2 separate regions of the Homo sapiens genome follow, and region 2 is reported to be linked to region 1. Evidence: microRNA targets listed by miRTarBase, many of them from high-throughput screens and not tested one by one. Region 1 holds a microRNA gene; the other region holds the end of a gene's coding sequence.
Evidence for each region. The annotated mature microRNA hsa-miR-2276-5p reads GCCCUCUGUCACCUUGCAGACG and lies in region 1 at 2,896-2,917, shown strand. An mRNA with a match to its seed (bases 2 to 7 or 8) in the 3' UTR can be bound and repressed. Matches are read on the target gene's strand: a 7mer-m8 pairs with bases 2 to 8, a 7mer-A1 pairs with bases 2 to 7 and ends in A, and an 8mer does both.

Region 1 (5,073 bases):
TTACATTCGAGTGGCACATGTGTTATGATTGATGGGCCCATGTTGTTACATTAAGATGAACTAAGTCCATTACTTACAGGAGGCTCACGCCGCATGCTGTTCATTCTGTGAGTTTTGAGAAATGCATAATGACATGAAGCCACCATTATAATGTCATACAGAGTTTTTTCAATATTTTAAAAAACATACATAAAATTAATTTTCACTTTTCATTGGGTAATATAATTTTTGTTTTTTATTTTACAGATTGTGGGTATTGTTCTTTGATTATAAAAGACAATAGACATTTATAAATAATAGTGCTGGCCACTAAATGAATCATCTAAAAAACTACACTGGTAGAAAGCATGCATTTATTTTATGAATTCCATTAGCTGCCTATCAGGGAACATGGAGCACTGGGGCACAGATCCCAGCACAGAAGGGTTTGCTTCTCTTCTGTGGTTTTCATGTCAATTAATGATTAGGCCTTGAGCCTCACAAGAAAGGTGATAGGCCTTTGAGTCGGTTTACTGCAACAGTCTACTCAAGACTTGCCCCAGGCCCTGGGAAACATGTAGGTTTAAAAATCCCTACCCTGCGTTTTCCTTTCACAGGGAGTGAACTTCTGGCCCAGGCAGTGGGCAGTGGGGCACGGTTGCCCCGGAGATGAGACTCCTCTTCCCGCCCTGGGGGGTGGGGGCTGGCTGGTGGCTGAGGGAACTATTTTTGTTTGTTTCTTTTTTTAAAAAACGGAGTCTGGCTGTGTCCTCCAGGTTGGAGTGCAGTGGCGCGATCTCGGCACACTGCAACCTCCGCCTCTCGGGTTCAAGTGATTCTCCTGCCTTAGCCTCCTGAGTAGCTGGGATCACAGGCGCCTGTCACCACGCCCGGTTAATTTTTATTTTTATTAGAGACGGGGTTTCACCATGTTGGCCAAGCTGCTCTCAAATTCCTGACCTCAGGTGATCCGCCCACCTCGGCCTCCAAAAGTGCTAGGATTACAGGCAAGAGCCACTGCGCCTGGCCGGGGAACTGTTTTTGATGGGTGGGGTCCCCGGCTGTGGTTGGTAGTGTGGGGGCGTGGCCGAGGGTGTGGCCTGAGGGAGTGAGCTAACCGGGGGCGTGGCCTGATATGGGGCGGGGGGAAGAGCCGGGCTGGGGGCGTGGCCTGGTGGGGAGCGGGGCTGGGGCGTGGCTTGGCTGAGTGTGCTGCCGCGGCGCGGGAGGAGAGTGTGCGTTGCGCTTTCTCCCGCGATCGCCCTGCCGGTCGCTAGCTCCGAGGGCGCGCACTGGATCCCAGGCTCCTCCGAGAGTGCGGCGACCTCGGGGCTCCGCCGGCACCGGAGGTGGCTCTGAGGGCAGGGACGTGTTGGACACGCTGACTTTGTAGGCTCCGCCAAGAGGCGCCGCAGGAGGTAAGACGGCTTCGGGCGCGCGGCTCTGCCGGGCGGGCGCGGGCATGGGCTGTTAGGTAGAATATCGGGAGGATTTGAGTCCCAGTGGACTGCCTCGGGGCTTCGGGATGTCCAGCTCCCAGCTGCTTGGCCTCTGCTTCCCCCGCCGGTGGAGGCTACCGGGTGCTCACCTGTTAGGTCCGTGCGCCCGCTCCCTGCCCGGCGGTGGCTCTGCGCCCTCTGGGCCACCCGGCACCATCGCTTTTGGGAGGACATGCACGTGGTGTTCTCGCAAAAGGCCGTTTCCAGCCGGAAGCCTGCAGGGAGGTCGCCTTGTAACTTCACCCGCGCTCCCAGCTCGCGGGGCCTGGCCTACAGGGGCGGCCGTGGGGGTGGCAGAGTCTGGGGAGCCTGGCGCGGCGGAGCCCTGTAACGCTCTGCTCCATCGGGTGGCGTGGCTGGTGCCTCCGGGGACCCGGAGCGATGCGGTTGGAGAGCTTAGTTTAGAAAGCAAGTTTCTCTTGGTACCAGCGGAGTCTCGTCCCAGGGGAAAGATTTTGGGACCCGGTGCCCATCGTCTGTGGACTGCAGGGAATGCATTGGCGGAGTTGGTTTGGTCCCATTCTGTGCAGGAGGTGGGGGAATTGGTACTCCAGCCCCAGGCAGGTAGAAGCCCGCGCTGCTGCCAGCGTCAGGGGGAGCTCGGGTGACTTGGGCTGGGCCACCCATCTGACTGCAAGGTTACAGAGCTTGAGCAAATTTCCCCTCCCTCCAAGTGCAGGAAAACCAAACCAAAGCAAGCAAACAAAACCCTGTGGGTCATTTGCTTCCCAGCATTGCATAGGGATGTGGATAAATAGAATAATACTGTGAATTTATTCAGCTCTTGTTCCCATGGCTTCCCATAGCCTTATATTATGCACCTCCCCCTGCCAGCATTTTCTCTGTCCCCACCTTCGGTTTTTGCTGCCTCGTGTTTTCTTCTCTGTGAACCTTTCCTGGTCACCCAGCGATTTGCTCTCCTTTATTCCCCTTGCTAACAGGCGGAGAAATCTCACTCCTTTTCTTTTTCCACCTTTCCCAACAAATTCTCCTTTTTTCCTAATGTCCCCCTCCCCCGTCTTGCAAACTTCCTCACTGCATTATTCTCGGGGTGCCTGTCATGCACCCTCCCTGTTCTCTGCCCTCCTCCCGCACTTTAGAGTTTCATGTGGCTTTGTCTTATTATCCCATATCCTAATTCTCATCTACCTCCCTTGGCCCCCACGTTTGCCATCTGCCTCCACCCAGTTCTCCCATCTCCTTCCTTATTTGTGCTCCCGTGCATATGCAGGTTTCTTCCTTGTTTCCCCATGTTTCTCCCACAGGTGCTTTCTTCCCTTTGCCCTACTTCTCCCTGGCAGGCGCTCTGCCCAGCCACAGCCTGCCCCGCCTGGAGGGCACACCTTGCCTCAGTGCCTTCTGCTGCGGTTTTCCATGCTCCATCAGCATCCCTGGGTTCCTTGTGTTCTTCCAGTCCGCCCTCTGTCACCTTGCAGACGGCTTTCTCTCCGAATGTCTGCAAGTGTCAGAGGCGAGGAGTGGCAGCTGCATCTCTGCAGGAGGACTCTGGATTTCAGGACCCTCCCTTCTGCCACTGCTTCTGACTGATTGTTTTCTTATTGAAGTCGTATCCTCTACATAGTTCTAGAATTAATGTCAATATTGATGTTAGGTAGCATCTACCAAACTCTGGGTGTGTGCCAAGCACTGTTCTGAGGGCTTAACGTGCATCAGTACTCATTTAAAATCCTCCACACATCCCTATAATGTAGGATCTACTACTGTCCCCATTTGACAGATGAGAAAAGGAAGGCTCAGAGGAGGTAACCGGCATGGCTTCTTGCCACTGCCTAGCAGTGGAGGCCCTCTTCTCACCAGACAGTGGAGCTTCCCTGCTGGGTGACCTCTTGAACTCAGGCATGCCTGGAGTTTAGCTTTGGAAAGGAGGTTGTTATATGACATGTTTTATTTAGTCTGCAATGTACACCAGTGGAGGACATGAATTCTATACCTGTAGGACAGTGCATGGAGAAAAACCTAATGCCGGCTGTCCCTCAGAAAGCCTGGGGCCAGTGCCTGGGCTGTCACCTCATCCATGCTATCAGTCTACTTTCCCTCTTAGCCACAGGAAGCCCTGAAGAAAGTGGCATAAAAATGACCTGGCTGGGCACAGTGGCTCATGCCTGTAATCCCAGCACTTTGGGAGGCCGAGGTAGGAGGATTGCTTGAGCCCAGGAGTTCAAGACCAGCTTAGGCAGCATAGCAAGACCCCATCTCTAAAAAATAAAAATAAGAAATCAGCTGGTTGTGATGGCGCACTCACCTGTAGTCCAAGGTGCTCAGGAGGCTGAGGTGAGAGGATCTCTTGAGCCTGGGAGGTTGAGACTGCAGTGAGCTATGATTTTGCCACTACACTGCAGCCTGGGTGACAGAACGAGAGACTCTGTCTCTAAAAAAATTAAGTTAAATTAAAAAAGAAGACTACTGCCAGCTGTCTCCTCCCGTGCATTGAGAGTTCCGTTTCACTTTAGCTGGACAGATCTTTATGGTCTCTGTTAGCTGTGTGACTGTATGAGTCTTATTTATATCCATTTCATTATGTAATCTTAAAGCCTTGTCCAAACATTTCTTTTTTAGTCTTTATCTTCCTAAGAGTTGGAGGCAAGTAGTATTTCTACTTTACAGATACTGAAGCAGAGCATGCACCTTGATAGCTGAAAGGGACTTTATATTCTACAGATGAGGAAACCGTGGTCCAGGGAAATAAAATGGCATATTCAAGGGAAAGCAGCAGGACAAAGTTGGCTCTAAGGCTTCTCTGGTTCAGGGCTCAATGCCTGGCCCTATAGCTTGGTAGGTTGACCTCTCTGTTTGCTGCTGGAAGCAACAAAGTTTCTTTCCCCTTCCTTTCCCTTGAGCTAAGAGGCATTGGAAGGTTTCACTTAGAAGGGGAACTCATCAGTGCTTTCCTTTCTTTTTTGTCTGAAAACTAAACATTTAAGAAATGTTTGCCTATGAGACATGTAATAGCATAAATGGGATCATAACATCACAGTGGTATAAATTCAAATGTTTTAGAAAGAACTATCATTGTTATTTCTAAAACACCAGGAATGAACACCAAATGTACATGGTTTTCTTGAGGGAAACTATATAATACATGGCAATTTGAAAATCAGTACCTGGAATGTTTAATTGTATTTTACATTTGTGGAGAGAAATGCATTGGTACAAAGTGCTTACCTGATTTTCCTCATCTTTGCATCACAAATGAAAGAGCAGTAAAGGGGGAGCATAGAGTAGGTTGCTGTTTTTCTGTTGGCCTCTGCTGTACCCACATCCTTCTCTGGACTCCCACTGAGCCCCCTTGCTCCTGCCTCTGCTCCCTCCATGTTTAATGCCTCTTTTGGCTCCCCAGGGAACCTGCAGGGTATTGTTGAATTGTGATGCTCACCTCCTCCATACCAGCCTGTCTTGACAGAATGAAACCCTGATGCCCTGAGGCAGGCATCCTATGTGATGGCTTCATCACTCCCTCCTAGGATGAGATGGGTGATCAGGTACCATCCTGGGGAGAAGGGAGGAAGCATTTGCGTGAGGTATCCTCTGTGTTCTGTGGTTTAGGTGAGGATGGTTATAACTGAGGAGCAAGTCA
Region 2 (5,062 bases), not on the chromosome of region 1:
CCACCGATGATCCAGTGGAGAAGCTGTGTTGGAGGTCAAGGGATGGAGGCGAAACTGCGCGTTCTCGTCCCTGCAGAAACCGGAATATCCGAGACACATGACGAACATGAAACTTTCTCCTTGTCTCTTGGCTCCCACTCCGCTACACAGATGAACGGTGTTACCTTCCCTCATGTTACTTTGCTAAGCCTACTCCTCAGAGCTGGTCCTTTGCATAACCTCTTCAAATGCTCTCAACTCTCCCTTGCTCCTACATAATGGAGTAATCATAAGTGCAATGAGAAAAGCATGAGATTTGAAGTTCCATAAGTATTGAGTCTAGGTTCTGGTGGTTATTAACTCCATGATCTTAGGAAAGTATCTGTCAGTGTTCTGTGTAAAACGGAAATGCTAATGTGTATTTACCAGGACTTTTTCTTGCGAGAGGCAGATGAAATGTATCTCCGTTTCATGAGTAAGTTCAGAGAATATAAGTGACTTGTCCAAGGTCAGCAAGCTAATGAGTGGGAAAGCTGAGGCTTGAGCCTAGACTGTCAACACCCAGGCCAAAGATTCATTGCCTGCTTTTCATCTTATGGAGTTAAACCTTGATACACACTCAGATCTGCAGTGACTTGACCAGCACTGTGGGTTCATGCTTTACTGTCTGATAACGAATTTTCATTTAATTTTATTTTTTTTCTTAGACAGGGTCTAGCTCTGTCACCTAAACCTGATGAGGGCTGAGCCTTCATTTCGCCGTTTTTTGTTTGTTTGTTTTTGTTTTTGAACGAGATGGACTCTGGCTATGTTGCCAGACTGGAGTGCAGTGGCAAGTCACAGGAGCCATCATAGCGCATTACAGCCTGGAACTTCTCGTCTTCAGGGATCCTCCCAAGTAGCTGGGATTTCAGGCATGTGCCACCATACCTGGCTCTAATTTTGAATTTGTTTCTTTAAATTATTATTTGTGTTTGCTGAAATTGTGTGTGTATTATTTTTGTGTATGTGTGTGAGTAGTTATATGTTACATAAAGTAGGTTGTGGGGTTTTTTCCAGTAATGTTTAGCTATAATTGAAGTTTGGGCCGAAATCTGCTAGTATTTGTTACTCCTCACCAAATCCTACCTTATCTCACAACAAACTGTAAGATCTTGTGATATTTCACTTCCAATAACCTTACCAGGCATCAGAGTGGGGTCTCTACTCTGAAATTAAATATCTGCCATAAGGTATGTTGAAGACGTTAGTCTCTTTCCCAGGAGGCACAAAGTGCAAGTCTTTTCCTCATCGCTTGAGCAAATTAAACCTACCGGACAGTTTACTACAGAACTCAAACACAGCTGGGCGCAGTGGCTCACGCCTGTAATCCCAGCAATTTGGGAGGCCGAGGTGGGCGGATCACCTGAGGTCGGGAGTTCAAGACCAGCCTGACCAACATGGAGAAACCCCGTCTCCACTAAAAATACAGAATTAGCTGGGCATGGTGCCATATGCCTGTAATCCCAGGTACTCGTGAGGCTGAGGCAGGAGAATCACTTGAACCCGGGAGGTAGAGGTTGCGGTGAGCCGAGATCACACCATTGTACTCCAGCCTGGGCAACAAGAGCAAGAATTCATCTCAAAAGAAAAAAAAAAGAACTTAAGCATAAGCCACAAATAAGGTTTATCATTACCTCATCAATGCTTGGATACTTACATTTATCAAGTTATTACATTTTGCTGTGTAAAAAATATTATGTATGGTGAAAGGGGGATATATATATATTATGTATTAAAATATGTATTATATATTATATATTAAACATAATATAATTATATATAATTATATATTAAACATAATATATTATATATTAAATATATAATTATAATATATATTTAATATATATGTATAATATATAATTATATATTATATATAATATGTTATATGTTTATAAACATATACATGTTATATATATTATATATTTCCTATATATTTAATATATAATATATATAATTATACATTGTAATATATAATATAATATAATATATATATACTTAAGGATGCTGTGCATCAAGCCTGAATTTTTTTTTTTTTTTTGAGATGGAGTTTCGCTCTGTCTCCAGGCTGGAGTGTAATGGTGCGAACTCTGCTCACAGTAACCTCTGCCTCCTAGGTTCAAGCGATTCTCCTCCCTCAGCCTCCCAAGTAGCTGGTATTACAGGCACCCACCACCATGCCCAGCTAATTTTTTTTGTATTTTTAGTAGAGATGGGGTTTCGCCATGTTGGCCAGGCTGGTCTCAAACTCCCAACCTGAAGTGATCCACCCACCTCGGCCTCCCAAAGTGCTGGGACTACAGGCATGAAACAACGTGCTCGGCCCAAGCCTGAATTTTCTTTTGCATTTCCAGTAGTTTTGCCATCTTTGTTATTCAGCAAAGAGATGTTTTTGTTTTCGTTTTTGTTTTTTTGAGACAGAGTCTGGCTGTGTCACCCAGGCTGGAGTGCAGTGGTGTGATCTCAACTCACTGCAACCTCTGCCTCCCAGGTTCAAGTGAGTCTCCTGCCTCAGCCTCCCAAGTAGCTGGGACTACAGGCGCCCTCCACCACTCCTGTCTAATTTTTTTTTTTTTTTGTATTTTTAGTAGAGACGGGGTTTCACTATGCTGGCCAGGCTGGTCTTGAACTCCTGTTGTGATCCACCACGCCCAGCCAAAGAGCTGTTTTTGTTAAAGTTTGCTTGTCCCAGGCTGGGCGCAGTGGCTCACGCCTGTAACCCCAGCACTTTGGGAGACTGAGGCAGACTGATCACTCGAGCCCAGGCGTTCAAGACCAGCCTGGCCAACATGACAAAACCCTGTCTCCACTAAAAACACAAAAGTTAGCCAGGTGTGGTGGCACGTGCCTGTAATCCCAGCTACTCGGGAGGCTGAGGCAGGAGAATCGCTTGAACCCGGGAGGCAGAGGTTGCAGTGAGCTGGGATCGTGCCACTGCACTCCAGTCTGGGCGACAGAGCCACACTCGGTCTTAAAAAAGAAAAAAAGTCCTTGTCCCTCTGCTTGTAAGTACCACCAAAGGGCTATATTAACTGACTATTGGCCAGGCATGGTGGCTCACGCCTGTAATCCCAGCTACTTGAGAGGCTGAGGCAGGAGGCAGAGGTTGCAGTGAGCTGAGATCGCACTATTGCACTCCAGCCTCGGAGACAGAGCAAGACTCTGTCCCTAAAAATAAATGAATAAATAAATAAAATAACTGACCATTGTGCCTGGCACTTAGTAGATGCTCAATATACATATATGAATAAATGAACTTCTCATTTTCCTCACTAATAAAAGCAGATATTAATGCCTATCAAATAACTAAATGGATTGCTGGCAGAATCAAAGAAGCTTGCACAAATCACTGGATAAATCACTAGGTGCAGTTATTTCCCTGAGGCTAGGACTGTTAGAGTTCTTCTCGCTGGGAATTTCCTGTGCTCAGGACAAGGCTCTGCCCACAAGGGCATCCGGACCCCATGGCGGAAAGAGGATATCCAGACCTTCAGATCACTCTACCTCCTGCTCTTTGCTATTTTCCTTACCAACAGAACAGCTAGGGAAGAGACAGCAGTAGGATTAGTCCTGGTTCCACAGAAACCGAGCCTGATTTGGGTAAATCAATCACTTTGAAGACACAATAATTGGATTTGAGTGGAGAACAATTCTGACAATAATCCAAGTTACCCAAAACAGGAACATTTGTGCAAATGGTGGCCTTTAATACCAAGAAAGACCATGACAAGTGACAGAACAGGAGCAAATTCCCTAGTGTAGTGCCGAGCTAGCCTTTTGCAGGACCCTAAAACCTGATCTAGTAACAGAATAAATCAGTGTATTTACATTTATGTTTGCCCTGAAAACCCAGGTAAGGTCTGAAGCCTGAGGCATCTCTCCTTCCTTTCCTCCTCCCTCTCTTCCTACCTCCTTGCCTTCTTTCACTTCCTCAATTCATTCCTCTCCCTTCTCCCTTCCTCTCTCTTCCTTTTTTTCCTTTCTGCTTTTCCCTTTTCTCCTTTTTCTCCTCATTCTCTTTACCATCTACCTATGTGACCCTCCAAGCCCCTCTGCTATTTCTCCCCTGCTCACTCCCTCTGCCGTTGTCTCCCTCAGGTTCAGCTTCCGGGGTGGGGAGGCAAGAAAGGGTCCTCAGCCCAGGGAGCACTTGTTGGTGTTCTTCTTGTCACAAGTTTTCAGGTCAGTACTGGGAGGCTTGTTGCCGTTTCCCTAGAGGGAGAAGGGCACAGGTGTCATGGTGTGAATGGATGGTTAGGGTAGGAGGGTATAAACTGTTTAAAGTAAATCCACCCTCATGAGAAATCTTAGCATTGCTCCCCGTTTTTATCAACACCAACACACACACACACACACACACACACACACACATACATACACACACACACACCCCAGAGTTGTACCTAGTCCAGCAAAACCAACTTACTGATCTCCGGCCTCCTGACTTGAGCAAGATGTCCCGGGCCAGGGAACTAAAAGCCTAAAGTGGGGAACAGAGTCAGTTTGGAGGGAGGAGAATCTACCTTCTAATACTTCCTCTCTTGGTCGGGGATGGGGGTGTGGATCTCACCTCATCCACATTCATACTGGATTTAGCACTAGTTTCGAAAAATCGGATTCCATGCTCTCGAGCCAACTATAAGGGGTGAAGTGGGAAGAGAATTGAATTAAGGACAGCAGCCAAGTCCTCTGCAATGCAACCTATCTTGGCCCTCCCAGCCCAGTTCTAGAACATTGCTCAGCCTGGCCCTCACCTTATCGGCCTGCTCCTTCTGCACCTTCCTCTTGGCCTCCATGTCACATTTGTTCCCCAGCAAGAGGCGCTCCACCCCAGCCGAGGCATTCTGGGGGCAAAAGACAAGTAAAAGTTAGGTCCTGCCGGCTGGGAGCGGTGGCTCACGCCTGTAATCCCAGCACTTTGGGAGGCCAAGGCGGGTGGATCACCTGATGCAGGAGTTCAAGATCAGCCTGACCAACATGGAGAAAACCCGTCTCTACTAAAAATGCAAAATTAGCCGAGCATGGTGGTGCATGCCTGTAATCC

Region 2: the mRNA of RAB13 is a reported target of hsa-miR-2276-5p. Seed matches in the 3' UTR shown: 8mer at 4,093-4,100, 7mer-m8 at 4,067-4,073 and 7mer-A1 at 3,913-3,919.

Annotation. Positions count from the first base shown.
Region 1 is chr13:24,159,536-24,164,608 of GRCh38, forward strand. MIR2276 (microRNA 2276) reads left to right here and starts at 2,881; the gene lies at 2,881-2,969. It overlaps SPATA13 (spermatogenesis associated 13), which reads left to right and starts at 1,185. Exons shown (of 13, transcript NM_001166271.3): 1 at 1,185-1,397. RefSeq lists a silencer at 1,076-1,135.
Region 2 is chr1:153,977,947-153,983,008 of GRCh38, forward strand. RAB13 (RAB13, member RAS oncogene family) reads right to left here. Exons shown (of 8, transcript NM_002870.5): 5 at 4,773-4,862; 6 at 4,589-4,654; 7 at 4,445-4,498; 8 at 3,704-4,230. The coding sequence ends at 4,153. It overlaps JTB-DT (JTB divergent transcript), which reads left to right. Exons shown (of 1, transcript NR_186180.1): 1 at 1-1,214. Among named protein-coding and RNA genes, the nearest start is that of JTB-DT, 2.7 kb to the left of the region's middle. RefSeq lists a silencer at 1-201.